Regions from separate parts of the Homo sapiens genome. Here region 1 is linked to region 2. The links come from fine-mapping of genetic effects on gene expression. Tissue or cell type: pancreas. Region 2 holds a variant in brackets; the other region holds the start of a gene. All regions are shown on one strand. Distances are between the middles of the regions.

Region 1 (8,070 bases), 110 kb after region 2:
CTGAGAACCTCTCCATCCTCCCGTCAAGGCCAGTTCTGCCCAATAACCCCAGCCCAGAGGCTGCCCTCCTGCCTCCAACACAGAGGGAAGCCAGATCCCTTGAGCCTGCTAGATTGCGACTTAGAGCTGGGAGGAGCTGGCAGACACATGAGACAGAGATGTCTGGCCAGCTGAGTTCCAGGCAGAGTCCAGACCTTACCAGGGCAGGACCTGTGCCCAGTTCTCTCTGCCCTAGAGATGTCCCCTCTCCTGACATTTTCCAATTGCACACTGAGTGCCCCCACCCACCTCTTGGATGGCTTCCATCACCACATGCTGAACCGATTCTTCCAGCGTCATGATTCTCTGGATGTGGTCTGGGGATCAAGGTGGGGGAGGCTGAGACCCAGGGGTGAGGTGGGGAGGAAGGAGGATTTCCTCAGGCCAGCCCTGGGGACCCCCTAAGCTCCCCATACCCTGCTTTTTCTCGCAACTGATGGCACAGCCCAGCACCAGCTGAAGCAGCTTGCCGAGCTCTGCCGGGTCTGAGAACTCTCCAATGAGGCTCACATCTGGGAGATGCTCTTCTGACACAGGATGCGCCAGGACCTGGGGAGAAGGGGGTGTCAGGGGCTCATGGGCCCACCCTTCTCCCAACTCAACCCCCTGAATCCCTTTACAGTTACTCACATCCTGGGAGTACTCTACTAGGCTCCGTAAGACCATCTTCAGATTGCTGACCTAGGGAGGAACAAGGAACTGTGGACAAGTTCAGAGGCCTCCCACTCTGAATCTGTAGGTCCCATCCTCTCTCCACCTCACTTCTCCTTCCCTGCTCATCTCATCCTATTCTGTCTGCGTGCGCCTTCCTCTAGGGGTGACCTGTCTGGCTGTCTGCCCCTTTTGTCTGCCTGACCATCTTTGTTTCTTTTTTTTTTTTTTTTTTTTTTTGCTTTAGCTTTTTAAGACAGGGTCTGGCTCTGTCACCCAGGCTGGAGTGCAGTGGTGCAATCTTGGCTCACTGCAGCCTCGACCTCCTGGGGTCAAGCAATCCTCCTATCTCTGCCTCCCAGTAGCTGGGACTACAGGCATATGCCACCACAATCGACTACTTTTTTTTATTTGTAGAGAGGAGGTTTTGCTATGTAGCCCAGGCTGGTCTCAAGCTCCTGAGCTCAAGCAATCCTCCCACCTCAGCCTCTAAAATTGCTGGGATTACAGGCATGAGCCACTGTGCCCGGCCTGCCTGACCATCTTCCTTCATATGTCTCCAGAACCAAGTCACTTCTCACCACCTGCCCCACCATCCTTCAGCCCTACCCATCCATCTTTACCTCTCACCTGGATTAGTGCACCAGCTGCCTCTCCTCTTCCACTTTTGCTGCCTACATTTTATTTCTCTCCATGCAGCCAGGGGGAGCTTTATAAAGCCCAAGCCAGGTTGCATCTTTGCTCTGCTAAAACCCTGCCTTGACTTTCCACAGCACTTAAAAATAGAATCCACACCCCCACCATGGCCTGCCAGGCCCCTGATGACCTCATCTCCTACAAATCTTGCCCTCTTGCTCTGTTCTGCCCTCTCTGCCATTCCTCCATCACACCAAGTTTATTCCCAAATCACGGCCTTTACATCTGCTATTCCCTATGCCTGGAACACCGTTCCCCCAAATTTCACTTGGAGATTAACCCATCTGATGTAATCAGCCACCTATGCCCTCATTGCTCTCTCTCAAAGCCCTGCTTTTTTGTTGTCTTCACAGAACTACTGGCATCAAAAGTTTTTTCTTTTTCTTTTTCTTTTTCTTTTTTTCTTCTTCTTGAGACAAGAGTCTCGCTCTGTTGCCCAGGCTGGAGTGCAATGGCTCAATCTCAGCTCACTGCATCCTCCACCTCCCAGGTTCAAGTGATTCTCATGTCTCAGCCTCCCAAGTAACTGGGATTACAGGTGCACACCACCCCACCCAGCTAATTTTTGTATTTTTAGTAGAGATGGGGTTTCAACTTGTTGGCCAGGCTGGTCTTGAACTCCTGGCCCCAGGTGATCCACCCACTTTAGCCTCTCAAAGTGTTGGGATTACAGGCATGAGCCACTGCGCCCAGCCTGGAAGTTAATTTTTATGGTTGTGTATGTGTTGCTTGTCACTAGAATGATGGCTGTGTGGGGCAGGTTTTTGTCTGTGTTATTCCTTGCTGAATGCCCAGGCCTGGCACAGGGTGAGTACTCCATAGATGAATGGATGAACAAATGGTTGATCACCAGACATCTGTCCCTCTTCCTGCCCATCACCCAGGACATGTGCCTAGCTGGCCCGTCCCTGGTCATCTCTTCACCAGTCTGTCCTCTAATCAGGAGTCCACTTGTCACCTTCAGCTTCCAGTTGGGACCTGGATCTTCCGAGATGCCCTGGAGCCATGCCTCGTTGAACCAGGAGGGGTCTCTGGGGGCGAGAAGGTGGGATGAGCAGACTGGGGGACACTTTTGGGATCCTCCCCTTCAGCTCCACTCACATCTGGTTCAGCACATAGGCTACGGCAAGGCCGCTGCTCAGGTCCTGAGGGCTGGCACAGGGAGACGGAACGTGGAACGTCTGTAACTGAGGGGTAAAGGAAAGGACAAGGAAAGAGTTAGGGCCTGGGAGCGCCGAACCGCTCCCCTTTTGCAGACTTTTCCAGTCAGCGAACCTCACATGGTGGGGCGGGCGCTGCTCCGCCACAGCAGCTCTGCGAGGGACTGGCTTCTGCTCACCTGAGACCGGAGGGGGCGTGGCCTCACCTCACCTCTGCCCAACAAACCCTGCGCGTCCAGGCCAGGGTGGTATCGCGAGTCACCTGGGCCCCACAGGCACCACGTGACCAGGCCAATTCACCTGTGTCCTCGCCCCACGTGAACCAACCACAGAGGGGCGGGGCCTCACCTGTCCTTTCCACGCAGACTTGCCACGTGACGGGGGCGGGTGCTCGGGCCAGAGTCCAACGGTCCAGCAAGTCGACGACCCCGCACCTCCCAGCCCCAGCACCAAGAGACTGACCGAACCAGGGCCAGGGATCCCGGGCAAGAGGAGCGGGCGCTCACCTTCCCCTAGCCCCGCCCCACGACCTACCCAGGTGAGCAGAGACCCGCATAGCTCAGCTTTGTCCACGCTCATGGCTCCCGATCGGATTCAATCCAGGCCACGGAGCCCCGGCGCCGCAGCAGCCTCCGGGTCCGCCACCAGCGAGCGCCCGCAGCCCCGACCTCCCGCTCGGCCTAGAGCGCCGCCCCGCCCCGCCCCCCTAGGCGCAGGCCCCGCCCCGCCCCCAAGCCCAGGCTCCGCCTCGGAACGTAATCTCCTCCCTACGCCCGCTCTTGCCTCCAGCCCCGCCATCTTGGATCCGGGCACCGTTCGGGCGCCCGCCCTGCCGCTAGGGGTCAGCCTGGCCCAGCCTTGTGCATCCGAGGGTGGTCCCACCTCCCATCCTCGCCCTGGCCCTTTTTGGGGTGGGAGGTCCTCAAGATCCTTTTGAGACGGAGGTGCTCCACCCTGTTACACAAGCGCATTCACGTCTTTTCCCTGCAACTTAAGTAAATTCTTTTTTTTTTTTTTTTTTTTTTTGAGACGGAGTCTCGCTGTCGCCCAGGCTGGAGTGCAGTGGCGCAATCTCGGCTCACTGCAGGCTCCGCCCCCTGGGGTTCACGCCATTCTCCTGCCTCAGCCTCCCGAGTAGCTGGGACTACAGGCGCCCGCCACCTCGCCCGGCTAATTTTTTGTATTTTTAGTAGAGACGGGGTTTCACCGTGTTAGCCAGGATGGTCTCGATCTCCTGACCTCGTGATCCGCCCGCCTCGGCCTCCCAAAGTGCTGGGATTACAGGCGTGAGCCACCGCGCCCGGCCTTAAGTAAATTCTTGTGTCTAACCACTTTATAATCGGAGCCGTTGTGCGGGGAGGGGCGAGCCCTGGCACTTTCTATGGACTGGGAGAGGGGATGCTAAAGGGGTTTTCCCGCCGGACGCGGTGGCTCTCGACTGTAATCCCAGTATTTTGGGAGGCCTAGGAGGGAGAATTAATTTGGATAGAAGTTGGAGACCAGCCTCTCTTCAAAAAATTTAAAAATTACCCAGGTAGCGGTGGCTCACGCCTGTAATCCCAGCACTTTGGGAGGCCGAGGCGGGCGGATCACGAGGTCAGGTGTTCGAGACCAGCCTGGCCAACATGGTGAAACCCCGTCTCTACTAAAAATACTAAAAATTAGCTGGGCGTGGTGGCGCACGCCTGATTTCAGCTACTCGGGAGGCTGAGGCAGGAGAATCGCTTGAACCCTGGAGGCGGAGGTTGCAGTCAGCCGAGATCGTACCACTGCACTCCAGGGGGCAACAGTGCAAGACTCCTCAAAAAAAAAAAAAAAAAAATTAGCCAGACATGTTGGCGTGTTTCTGTGGTCCTAGCTCCTAGCTCTACAGAGGCTGAGGTGGGAGGATAGCTTGAGCCCAGGAGGTCGAGACTGCAGTGAGCCGTGATAGGGCCACTACACTCCAGTCTGGGTGACAGAGCAAGACTCTGTCTCAAAAAAAAACAGTAAAAATTTAAAAATAGGGCCGGGCGCGGCGGCTCACGTCTGTATCCCAGCACTTTGGGAGGCCTAGGCAGGCGGATCACGAGGTCAGGAGATCGAGACCATCCTGGCTAACACGGTGAAACCCCTTCTCTACTAAAAATACAAAAAATTAGCCGGGCATGGTGGCACGCGCCTGTAGTCCCAGCTACTCGGGAGGTTGAGGCAGGAGAATAGCTTGAACCCAAGAGGCGGAGGTTGCAGTGAGCCGAGATCGCGCCACTGCACTCCAGCCTGGGCGACAGAGTGAGACTGTCTCAAAAAAAATAAATAAAATAAAATAAAATAAAATAAAATGCCTGGCGCGATGGTTCACATCTGTAATCCCAGCACTTTGGGAGGTCGAGGAGGGAGGACTGCTTGAACCCAGGAGTTCGAGAACAGCCCTGGCAACACAGCGAGACTCCGTCTCTACAAAAATAAAATAAAAAATAAAAGTAGCTGGGCGTGGTGGCACGCGCCTATTCCCAGCTACTCCAGAGGCTGAGGTGGGAGGATCGCTTGAGTCCGGGAGGTCAACGCTGCAGTGAGCCGTGGTCGCGCCACTGCACTCCAGCCTGGACGTCAGGGGGGAGACCCTGTTTCAAGAAATAAATAAATGAATGGATCCTCCCTGCATTATTGACTCCAGCAGTAGATAAGGGGACACGGGTATGGTCCTAGGTCGAGAAGAGGTCAGTTAGACACACATGTCCTGGCTGATGGATAGGCACCCTTGCCCAGCCTGGATCCGTCTTCCACGATATTCCCCCCGCGCCTTGCCCTCCCCAGATGCGCGCCCGGCATCACCCCCACCTCAGAACCCAGGATTTGGCTGAAGCTGCCGCGTCGCCCGGGCCCACCAGGGGGCGCGGAGACCGCAGAACGCGGCCTAGGGGGAAGACTGTGCGCCCGCCCTGAAACCCCGGCTGGGGCGGTGGAGCGGGGGTCAATGGAAAGTGATGGGAATTATAGTTAACAATAAATTGCAGTCACCATGTATGGAGTGCTTACTGTATGCAGTCCTTGCGCTAAGCGATTTAAATACATAGACTATTGAATCCTCCCCATGTCTCCAGATGGCAAGTGCTGTTTTAATTCCCTGCTTTGCCGGCGAGAAAACAGAGGTTCCGAGTGGACCGGGTTTTGAGGGGAAGGGTGAAGCCCAGGCTCGCGCCCTGTGACCCCAGGGTCCCTCTGCAACCCCTCCCCGGTAGACGGGCGGGGTAATGTGCACTAATTAGAGGTTATTAGCTGTACCCAGAGGGAGGGGCGGGCTCTGCATTGGGGGCGGGCCCAGATCGGAGGGGAGGGGCGCTGCTCCCACCCACCCAGAAGATCCTGGCGCCAGAGACCTTGCCCCGGAGCAGGGTGGGCAAAGTGACAGCTGCTCCCCGCGCGCATCGCACGAACGCAGTCACTCACCCCCAGACACCCGATTACAGCCCACTCATGCGCAGCCGTACGCACCCGGGGGCCTCGGATGCTCGTCCATATCCCCACAACCTCCTCCCGCGTGGTTTTCCAGACTCCAGCCCCTGGGAGCGGGTGGAGAGGATAGTGGGGGAAGGGGACAAGGGCCGGCAGCGCTGGCTTCCGGACTGGGCTGTCTTCCGGCGGTCGTGGGAACAGCTGCCGTTGGCTCCCCGACCTCGCATTCACCAGAGGAGAGGGTGCTGCCAATACAGGGAAACAGGGCCACCCCGTTCCCAGGTAGCAATGGGAGGTGAGCCAGGAACCACAGCTGTTACAAGCATGGGTGGCTGGACATGCTGAGATCACCACATTAGGGCGGGGGTCGCAGGGATTTTGATGTTTAGGGGAAATCTGGAAATCCAAATATTTAGGCAAATTGACTTAAATTGTGCTAATGTTGGCGTGATGTTGTGGGCGTCCCAGATGTTCGGGGAGCCAGGAGTCCCCAGACTTAAGGAAAATCTGGGTGTGCTCAATTTGGGGGAGGAGCATAACCCTCCATTTTGCGGCGGCAGGGAGTCCCACATTTGGGGAAAAGCAGTGAGCTTCTATGTCGGCGGGGAAGACAGCAGCAATCTCTGTTTTGAAACACAGGGAGCCCCGCTGTGCGGAGATCCAGGCACCTTTAATTCAGCAAGAGGGGCTGAAAAACCCTCCACATTTTGGAAGAAGGATCCAAACCCCTGTTTTAGGTAAAGAGAGCCCCCAACGTTTTGGGGGATGGTCTGAAGGCCGCCATTTGTAGGGACACAGAGCCCTGGTGTGCAGGTCTGGGCCAGCAGCCCCCAGCTGGATTGGGGAGCCCACCCCCTCTACTGGTTTCCAGGAACAGCTGGGCCCAGCCTAGGTTGTACTGCTGGGAAGCGGCTGACTCAACCCCTCCCTGTGGCCACAGCTGGACCCCGGCCTGCCCCCTCCAGCGTTCACATCTGGGCAGGGATCCAGTCTTCATCAGGGCTGAGAAGGGGACCCTCAGTCCCACAACTGGAGAACAGTGCCCCTCTGCCACTCCCCTGGCTGACCACAGCCACTGGGTGGACTCCATGCATCATCACCATGGAGGACTCTGGCAGGCCCCCTACAGCCCAGATATTGACATCCTGCCAGGAACTCCTAGCCAGTCCCCCCTCCCTGTGTCTGTGTGTGTCTGAGTCCATGTGAAATGTGCTAGGTTTTTTTGTGTTTTTGAGAGAAAGGGTTTTGCTATGTTGCCCAGGATGGTCTCGACCTCCTGACTTCAAGTAATCCTCCTGCCTCTGCCTCCTAAAGTGCTGGGATTTCAGGCGTGAGCCACGGCGCCTGGCCAAATGTGCTGGTCTTTGTAGGTGTGAGATGGAGGATCTGTGACTGTGTGTACACGGGCATGTGTCCTGCATCCATTGTGTCATAAGGCCTTCGAGTTTGTGCAACAGGCTGTGCCTGATTTGATGGGGGGGAGGGCTGGTTTCGGGGACTGGGGGAGGGGAAATTTGTAACATCCTTGTCGGTAACATCCTTGTCCGTAACATCCAGGTTGGGGCCGGGCTTGGTGGCTCGCGCCAGTAATCCCAGCACTTTGGGAGGTCAAGGCAGACAGATCACTTGAGGTCAGGGGTTCAAGACCAGCCTGGCCAACATAGTGAAACCCTGTCTCTACTAATAATACAATAATCAGCCAGGCGTGGTGGTGAGCGCCTGTAATCCCAGCTACTCAGGAGGTTGAGGCAAGAGAATTGCTTGAACCTGGGAGGCAGAGATTGCAGTGAGCCGAGAACGCGCCATTACACTCTAGCCTAGGTAACAAAGCAAGACTCCATCTCAAAAACAACAACAACCAAAAAAACCCATCCAGATTTTAGGGTGACTAGGGAACCTCTAGTGTGTGCCCCTGTGTATCTCTGTATGGTCCAGGCAGAGTTTGGGTGGGGCTCTCTCACTCCAATTGCATCTTCATGTGTTGTGTGTCTGTGTCTACTATATACGTCTATATGGGACCTCACTTTGGGTCTATATCTGTGTCATTCTTTTTTTCTTTTTCTTTTTTTGAGACGGAGTCTCACTCTGT
Region 2 (8,075 bases):
AAAAATTTAAAAATTAGCCAGGCGTAGTGGTGCGCTCTTGTAGTCTCATCTACTAGGGGGGCTGAGACAGGAGAATCGCTTGAATCCGGGAGATTGAGGCTATAGTGAGTTAGGATTGCACCACTGCACTCCAGCCTGGATGACAGCAAGACCCTGTCTCAAAAAACAAAAACAAAAACACGTAGGGCTGAAACAGAGAGGCCTCCAGCTTATTTCCAAGCTTGGGGAAGTTTCAGAACTCACCACCTTGGGCTAGCAGGGAGAGGGCGGGTCCAACATCAGAACCCAGGTTCACCTCCCCAGCACTGTCAAAGCGCAGAGCAGGCCTGACTCCAGGAATGAGGTTCCCCCTTCCACAGCCTGAGGATGGATGGGGTCTGAGCACAGGTAATGAACCTGTTTTTAAGGCAGCCTAGGCATCCACTTGCCACCCGGTTTAGGGAGGAGCCAGGACCCGAGCTAGTGGGTGGGGCCAGAACACCAAGAGGGGCCTATTAGGGGAGAGGGCGGAGCCAGCCGGAGCTGGGTCAGCCTGGGCTGGGCATAGCCGGCTGAGGCCAGAGCTCAAAAGCCACTGGCTTTACGGCTCACTCAAGGGGCAGGGCTTCAACAGGCCTAGGCCTGGGCCTGGTCCTTGTGAGATTGCAGGGAGAGGGCGGGGTTTGACTGGGCGAGGGAGGAGCCAGAGTGAGTGAAGAAGTGGGCCCAAGAGAGGTCCCGGGTCGCACCTGCGCAAACAGCGAGGCCTGCTCCCGAGAGTGGCCGAAGGGGTCAATGTGCCAGGCCACACGGGGTCGCCCATCATTGCCAAATGTGTCCTCCAGAAAGCGCAGCCCAAGTGTCATCTGGTCCACGATGGCACCGTAGTGGGTGGCTGCCTCATCGTTCATCACCCAGCCACCATTGGCGAACTCCAGGCGCCCTGTGCCAGGACAGGCAAGGTCAGGGTCAGCGGTCAGAGCCAGGAGTGGGAGTAGGGTGGGTGATACTGGGAATGTGAAAGCCTGCCTGTGTACACATTTCTGGCGGAAGGACAAGAGGGGTCGCTCCCAGGCCATAGTTCCCAGATATGGGAAAGAGGCCCCCTGCATGGCAGGCTTCCCAGAGGATGCACAGCAGGTGGGGCTTTGTGGGATGTATAGGAGGTCTCCAAATGGAGAGTCCAGGCAGGCGGAGCGACACGCATGTTATACAGCTTGCACGTGGCATGACAAATCTCAGAAACCAGAGATGCAGAAGCAGAAGCTGGGCTGGGCTTCCTCTTTTCACTTCCTTGGGGTAGGCTCACCCTGGCGCACAAGGTCTCGCACGACTTCCTGTGTGGCATTTGTCTGCTGGTGCCACCAACGGGAGAAGAAGGCAATCTCCACGTAAATGAAGCGACGGGTGGGATCTGCCAGCAAGGCAGAGATGACCGAGTCCAGGATGTACTGCACACCGGCGTGCTGGATGTCATTCTTGACTGTGGATAACAGGGATAAGGCTCTCAGGGAACAGCAGAGCCAAGGGGGTTATTCCTAGACAGAGGAGCCCAAACCCTGGATATTAGGGTAGCACTGGCCCCACCCTAATGTCCAGGACCCAGAGGGATTACAGGGACCATGGGGATCCCAGGGACCAGTCCCCATCCTCTACTCACTTCCATAAAAGTACTGGTCCACGGTTTTGAGCCAGCCCACGTCATCATGTGTGTGAGGCAGCAGGTGCACGTTCAGCATGTTCGGCTGCACTGTGGGGCATGTCTGCACAGGGACCCCAAACACACATACCTTGTCAATAACCCCCGAGGTCGGGGGCTGCAGAGTAAGTCTTGATCTAGAGGTGAGTGACTCAGAGAGGCCTGATCTCGCCTATGTGCAGAGGAGGCCAGGCCCTCCCAGGCAGGACACACACATACATAGTTGTGCTCATAGATACAACTCCACTTTGCACAACCCCACAGGGCAGCTCTCATTCACACTCCGGGAAAATAATAATAGAAGTAGCTGATGTTTGTTCAGCATTTGCCGACAGCAGACGGCCACCGTGGGAGGTGGGGTGATGTTATCCCCAGTTTCCAGATGAAGGCACTGAGGCTTAGAGAGGATAGGTGACTTGCCCAACGTCACACACTCAGGAAGTGTAAGAGCTAGGCTGGAATTTCAGGCAGACTCCAGAGTCCCAGCTCTCAGCCAGCACCTCCCCCCACACATACACTGCTCACCCCCTGCCACCTCCTGCCCCTCCAATCCCACAGTTAAGTGCAGACAAAGTCTAGGCAAGCATCCCGGAGACACGGAGGCAGGTACAATCAGACACAGTCCTATACTCAGATGCGCACAGCCAGACCTCGCAATGACACAAAGCACGCACTCAGACCACACTGTCATATCATCAGCCATTCACTAGACACCCACAGGACAGACCCACCCACACCTCTAGACTGTATTCTGGGTTTCACTCTGCCTCCTGTACGTTTCAGCTCGGAGGCCCCACTCACCTCGTATCCCCCGGCCCGAGCACCGGCAGCCGCCAGCAACAAAAGGAAAAAGCAGAGAGGCGGGAGCGGTGGCCGCAGGGCGCGGGACATGGTCCAGGGGCCTGCTGAGTCCAGGCAGCCGCGAGCGCAGACCCCCGAAGCCCGCGCGTAGGCGCCCATGGCTCAGCAGCTTCCTCCTGGGGTTCCCCGGCCCTGGAAAGGCCGGGCAAACGCCCCGCCCCCAGACCCGGCCGGGCCAATCGGGGTGGGGGGCGGGGCCAGGGCGCGGTCTGGAGGCTCACGGGAGAGAGGCTGTAGCCCTGGGCAATCCCGGGGGTCGTTACAGGAAGGTAGGAAAATGCCACCCTCAGGGCACTGGTTGGGCTAAAGGTGACACTGGCGTCTCACGGGCTATGAAGACGGAATGCCTCTTAATGCCGGAATTCCAAGACGGAATGCCTCTTAATGCCGGTAGGAGCAGAAGTGCTTTTCCTAAGGGGGCCGGGTTTTCCTAGCCGGTGTAGTGTGTCCATGGGAATCCAGGGTGTCCGTCCCATGGACCTTCAGCGCTAGGGTCCTGGAAGGACCTAGCTTGCCTAAGAGGAGGATCTGATGAAGAGTCCTATACTGTGGGGATTGGGACGTTGGGTAAATACCCCTGGAGTACCAGGGATGGGATCCAGCCTGGTTGAGAAGGATCCCTGGGTGTTCCGGAGAGAAAAGAGGGTCTGACAAGTGGGGAAGGACCCCGAGTCTTTCATGCCTTTCCCAATTCCTACCAGTTCATTCTCTGATAAGAAAACAAAGCCCAGGGCAGGCGCAGTGGC[T/G]CAAGCCTGCAATCCCAGCACTTTGGGAGGGCCAGGCTGGTGAATCACTTGGGCCTGGGAGTTTGAGACCAGCCTGGGCAACATGGGTTGTTTTGTAGAGACGGGTTTGAAAACACAAAATTTGTAATTTTACACAAAATGTAAAAATACAAAAATTAGCTGGGCATGGTGGCACATGCCTGTAATCCCAGCTACTTGGGAGACTGAGGCAGGAGAATCACTTGAACCTGGGAGGCGGAGGTTGCAGTGAGCCGAGATCAAGATCATGCCATTGCCCTCCAGCCTGGGCAACAAGAGCAAAACTCTGTCTCAAAAAAAACAAGAATTAACTGGGCATGGTAGCACGCATTTGTGGTCCCAGTTACGTGGCAGGCTGAGGTGGGAGGATTGCTTGAGCCCAGGAGTTTGAGGCTGCAGTGAACATAGATTGTGCCACTGCACTCAGCCTGCATGACAGATCAAGACCATTTTCTTTCTTAAAAAGGAAAAAAAAAAAAGGAAACCAAAGCCTAGATTATCTAGGTCAGCAGGGCCATCTGGTGAGTTGCCAGAGGGCAGAAGTCACTGTCTTGTCCCTAGCACCTGACTTAAGACACAAGGTTTATGAAGTAAGCAAATGAACAGCCAGAAGCCTCCAGACTGGGGCCCCACACCAGGCCTATGGGGCTAGAGCCCTTCCCGCCAGGTAGGAGGAACACCCCACTGAACAGAAGAGGCTGACAGCCAGAGTGAAAAACTTTATTAACAACAGGTTTCAACGAGAAAGCAAATGAATACCCCTAGAAACATGGACAGCATCTCCCCCAGCAGCAGGCAGGGGAAGGGAGGCAGGAGGGGTAAGCCTAGGGTGTTCCCTAGGAAAGGGCCAGGTTCCCTCTATCCAGCTGGGGGCACCGAGACGGCCTCATTCAGGGAAGTCCAGGATGGCAGCTGAAGGCAGCAGGTTTAGCAGCCAAAGCCCAGGCCTAGTGGATAGACAGGGTCCAAAATGTGACCCTTCTAGGCTGGTATCACCATGGGGGCGTCATGGGCTGAGGATTCTGCAGATAGGACATCACCACGGCAGAGATGGACAGCCTGAGACAGGAGAGAGGTGTCAGTCTAGGATGGCCAGGCTGGGGTCCCCCCACCCCTTACTCAAGAGTCACTTGTTCTGTAGGGCAAGTCTCACATGAAGCTACTCATCATTTGCTTCGTGTCCTCCGAGCTCCGAGAGTTGGCAAAGCTGATGAAGGAGCAGTAGACAGCGACCCAAGCACACCACTTCAGCTAGGGAAAGGTAAGTGGGTGGGCAGGTTAGTGAAAGGCACAACAATGAGTCCCCGAAGCCACCTTTCCAGACACCAGATCATGCCCACTGATTCCATCTGATGCAGCTGGGACCTTGCCCCACCCGGAATTCCTCAGTCCCACCTGCTCATGGCATACTCTAGATACGTGGTTTCTAGTCCTACTGTCTGGCCTGCGTCTCTCAGGACCAAGAGAGACTCTGACATCCCACATGCTTAAGACCCTGCCCTTTTTCCACAACTCCTCTCCAAGTTGCTTCAAAGCCTGGCCCCACTCGCAGACCAATCTGCCACATCCCCAACCTGACTCGAATCCTTGACTTCACCAAAGACTGGGGCTTTCTCGGCCCAGCGTCATCGCAGCCCCACTCCCGGCCGATCTCAGGTCCCGCCCCATCAGCAATGACAAGACACCCCGCTTCATTCCAAACCCGCCCCCGGGCCTCGTTCTCAGGTCCAACTACACCCATAGAAGCTCAACCCCGCCCACCTTAAGCATGAGGCCGCACATGCTGAAGATCATGCCCAGCAGGTTCATGTAGTCCGGCGTCGGGTCGTCCAAGGCCGGGTTACATTCGCTCGGCGGGGGCTTGTACCTGCGACAGGCTCGAGGGTCAGGGGCGCTCAGGTCCTGCCCCCGGGATAGACAGGCGCTTCCCAGGGCCCCGATCCACACCCACAACCCGAACCCGTGCCCACGACGCTGGGGTCCTCACCTCAGCACTTTGTTCGGCCTCCGTGGGTCCGACATATTGTTAGTGGACATAGCGAGTCGAAGGCCAGATCACGCCTCTTCCGCTGCAGGAATCGCAGCTTCCGGCGTGCAAGCTGAGGGCGGATTTTAGAGTAACACCCGAGGCCCTCGCATTTCCGTTCCTCATGACAGAGGCTTGGACTCCCCTTACCCAGAGAACGGAGATTTAGGAGAAGCCAGAAGTCTTCCTTTCAAAGGGAAAATGGGGAAAAGAACCTGAAAGCGGGCTTCAATAGTTCCAACCCGATCACCGAAATGCCAAAATGATGAACCCGGAAGTGATAAACAGGAAGTAGGTCAGGAAGAACAATAATAAGGTTACACCCAAGCGTGGGTTTCTAAGGCGCGGAATTTTCCGTACAGACCGATTTAAGGCTGCAAGGAAGGAGTCCTGGGAGCATGGCTTTCCCTGAGCCAAAGCCGCGGCCTCCAGAGCTGCCGCAGAAACGGTTGAAGACGCTGGACTGCGGGCAGGGGGCAGTGCGAGCCGTACGATTTAATGGTGAGCGCCTTCGTCTTCATTCCGGGTCCTCCTCCCGCCTCCTGAGATCGACGGCCCAGTAACCCCCGCCTGGTGTTCCCCAGTGGATGGCAATTACTGCCTGACGTGCGGCAGTGACAAGACGCTGAAGCTGTGGAACCCGCTTCGGGGGACGCTGCTGCGGACGTACAGCGGCCACGGCTACGAGGTGCTGGATGCGGCCGGGTGAGCCGGGGACCAGGCTGGGATGGGAGCGCTGAGGCTGGGATCCGAGGTCGATGCTGATCCTCCTCCTCCTTTACTCCAGCTCCTTTGACAACAGTAGTCTCTGCTCCGGCGGCGGGGACAAGGCGGTGGTTCTGTGGGATGTGGCATCAGGGCAGGTCGTGCGCAAATTCCGGGGCCACGCAGGGGTGAGTGAAAGCCTGGAGACCCTCATTTGAGTGGAGGGGACCCGTATTAGCGCATAGGTGGTGACACGGCCACCCCCATTACACCGTAAGGATCCCTTCCCCAGATGACGATCCCCCACTCCGCATGCCAGGCTAGGCAGTCACCAACCCCTGTCCTTGCTGTTCCCCCAAAACCTTTCACCTCCCCTTCGCCCTTGCTTTAACCGACACTGGGAACCCTGCCTTTATCCCAGTCCTCCAAAGTCCAGCCTCCTCTGAGTGGCAATAACTTTCTCAGAAGGTGAACACGGTGCAGTTTAATGAAGAGGCCACAGTTATCCTGTCCGGTGAGTCTGGGGCCTAAGCACGGGGGCCCAGGGTGCTGCCCTCCCCCTCCAAACCTGACCTCACCATCATGCTGGCCTCACAGGCTCTATTGATTCCAGTATCCGCTGTTGGGATTGCCGCTCACGGAGGCCTGAGCCAGTGCAGACGCTGGATGAGGCCAGAGATGGCGTGTCCAGTGTGAAGGTGTCAGACCACGAGATCCTGGCAGGGTGAGTGGAGCCAGGACCTGGTCTCACCCCAGGTGCTACGGGGAATCATAGCTGCCCCCATGCTCAGATTAAAACCTACTCTCAGCTGGGCACAGTGGCACACAGCTGTAATCCCAGCTACTTGGGAGGCTGAAGTGGAAGGATCACTTGAGTCCAAGAGTTCGAGGCACCATTGCACTCCATGCTGGGTGAAAGACAGACTGTCTACAAAATAATAATAATCTGGCCGGGCACGGTGGCTCACACCTGTAATCCCAGCACTTTGGGAGGCCAAGGTGGGCAGATCACTTGAGGTCAGGAGGTTGAGATCAGCCTGGCCAACATGGTGAAACCCCGTCTCTACTAAAAATGCAAAAATTAGCCAGGTGTGGTGACGGGAGCCTGTAATCCCAGCCACTCGGGAGGCGGAGGCAGGAGAATCGCCTGAACCCGGGAGTTGGAGGTTGCAGTGAGCCGAGATTGTGCCACTGCACTCCAGCCTGGGCGACAAAGTGAGACTCCATCTCAAAAAAAAAAAGATAAAATGATTTCTAAAAATAAATAAAAATAGGCCGGGCGCTGTGGCTCATGCCTGTAATCCCAGCACTTTGGGAGGCAGAGGCAGGCGGATCATGAGGTCAGGAGATCGAGATCATTCTGGCTAACACGGTGAAACCCCGTCTCTACTAAAAATACAAAAAATTAGCCGGGCATAGTGGCAGGCGCCTGTAGTCCCAGCTACTCAGGAGGCTGAGGCAGGAGAATGGAGTGAACCCAGGAGGCAGAGCTTGCTGTGAGCCGACATCGCACCACTACACTCCTGGGCGATAGAGCAAGACTCCGTCTCAAAATAAGTAAATAAATTAAATAAATAAATACATAAAAATAATCATAAGGAAGAATTTTTGTTTTTTTTGAGACGCAGTCTCGCTCTGTTGCCAGGCTGGAGTGCAGTGACGTGATCTCGGCTCACTGCAACCTCTAACTTCTAGGTTCAGGCGATTCTCCTGCCTCAGCCTCCCTAGTAGCTGGGACTACAGTCGCGTGCCACCACGCCCAGCTAATTTTTGTATTTTTAGTAGAGACGGGGTTTCGCCATGTTGGCCAGGAGGGTCTCCATCTCTTGACCTCGTGATCCACCTGCCCTGGCCTCCCAAAGAGCTGGAATCACAGGCGTGAGCCACCGCGCCTGGTGGAAAAAATATATTTTCTATTCATTAAGTGGAAGTGAAGAGATCGTCATAAAGATCTTCGTGTTGAGAAAGCAGAGGAGGAGGAAGAGGAGGGATTGATCTTGGTGTCTCACAGCTGATAGAGGCAGAAGAAAATCCACATATA

The links. PIP is the estimated chance that this variant, and not a neighbour inherited with it, causes the effect.
Region 1: HOOK2 starts here. The variant in region 2 is fine-mapped to the expression of HOOK2 in pancreas (GTEx, PIP 0.97).

What each region holds. Positions count from the first base shown.
Region 1 is chr19:12,772,325-12,780,394 of GRCh38, forward strand. HOOK2 (hook microtubule tethering protein 2) reads right to left here and starts at 3,228. Exons shown (of 23, transcript NM_013312.3): 1 at 3,081-3,228; 2 at 2,488-2,573; 3 at 2,345-2,417; 4 at 670-720; 5 at 456-588; 6 at 289-356. The coding sequence starts at 3,125. RefSeq lists enhancers at 2,150-2,830, 2,831-3,509, 6,563-6,612, cis regulatory regions at 3,046-3,687, 5,187-5,707, 6,807-7,407 and a silencer at 3,072-3,291.
Region 2 is chr19:12,664,064-12,672,138 of GRCh38, forward strand. It overlaps MAN2B1 (mannosidase alpha class 2B member 1), which reads right to left and starts at 2,679. Exons shown (of 24, transcript NM_000528.4): 1 at 2,480-2,679; 2 at 1,640-1,742; 3 at 1,289-1,462; 4 at 729-922. The coding sequence starts at 2,638. WDR83 (WD repeat domain 83) reads left to right here and starts at 2,744. Exons shown (of 11, transcript NM_001099737.3): 1 at 2,744-2,929; 2 at 4,445-4,564; 3 at 5,692-5,830; 4 at 5,914-6,034; 5 at 6,117-6,222; 6 at 6,500-6,548; 7 at 6,632-6,758. The coding sequence starts at 5,728. WDR83OS (WD repeat domain 83 opposite strand) reads right to left here and starts at 5,352. Exons shown (of 4, transcript NM_016145.4): 1 at 5,291-5,352; 2 at 5,065-5,170; 3 at 4,457-4,554; 4 at 4,010-4,362. The coding sequence starts at 5,340. The coding sequence ends at 4,296. RefSeq lists enhancers at 349-1,297, 1,122-1,171, 1,298-2,245, 1,312-1,361, 1,902-1,951 and 5 more, a silencer at 2,542-2,821 and a cis regulatory region at 7,848-8,075. The variant T/G (reference allele first, on the strand shown) is at 3,286.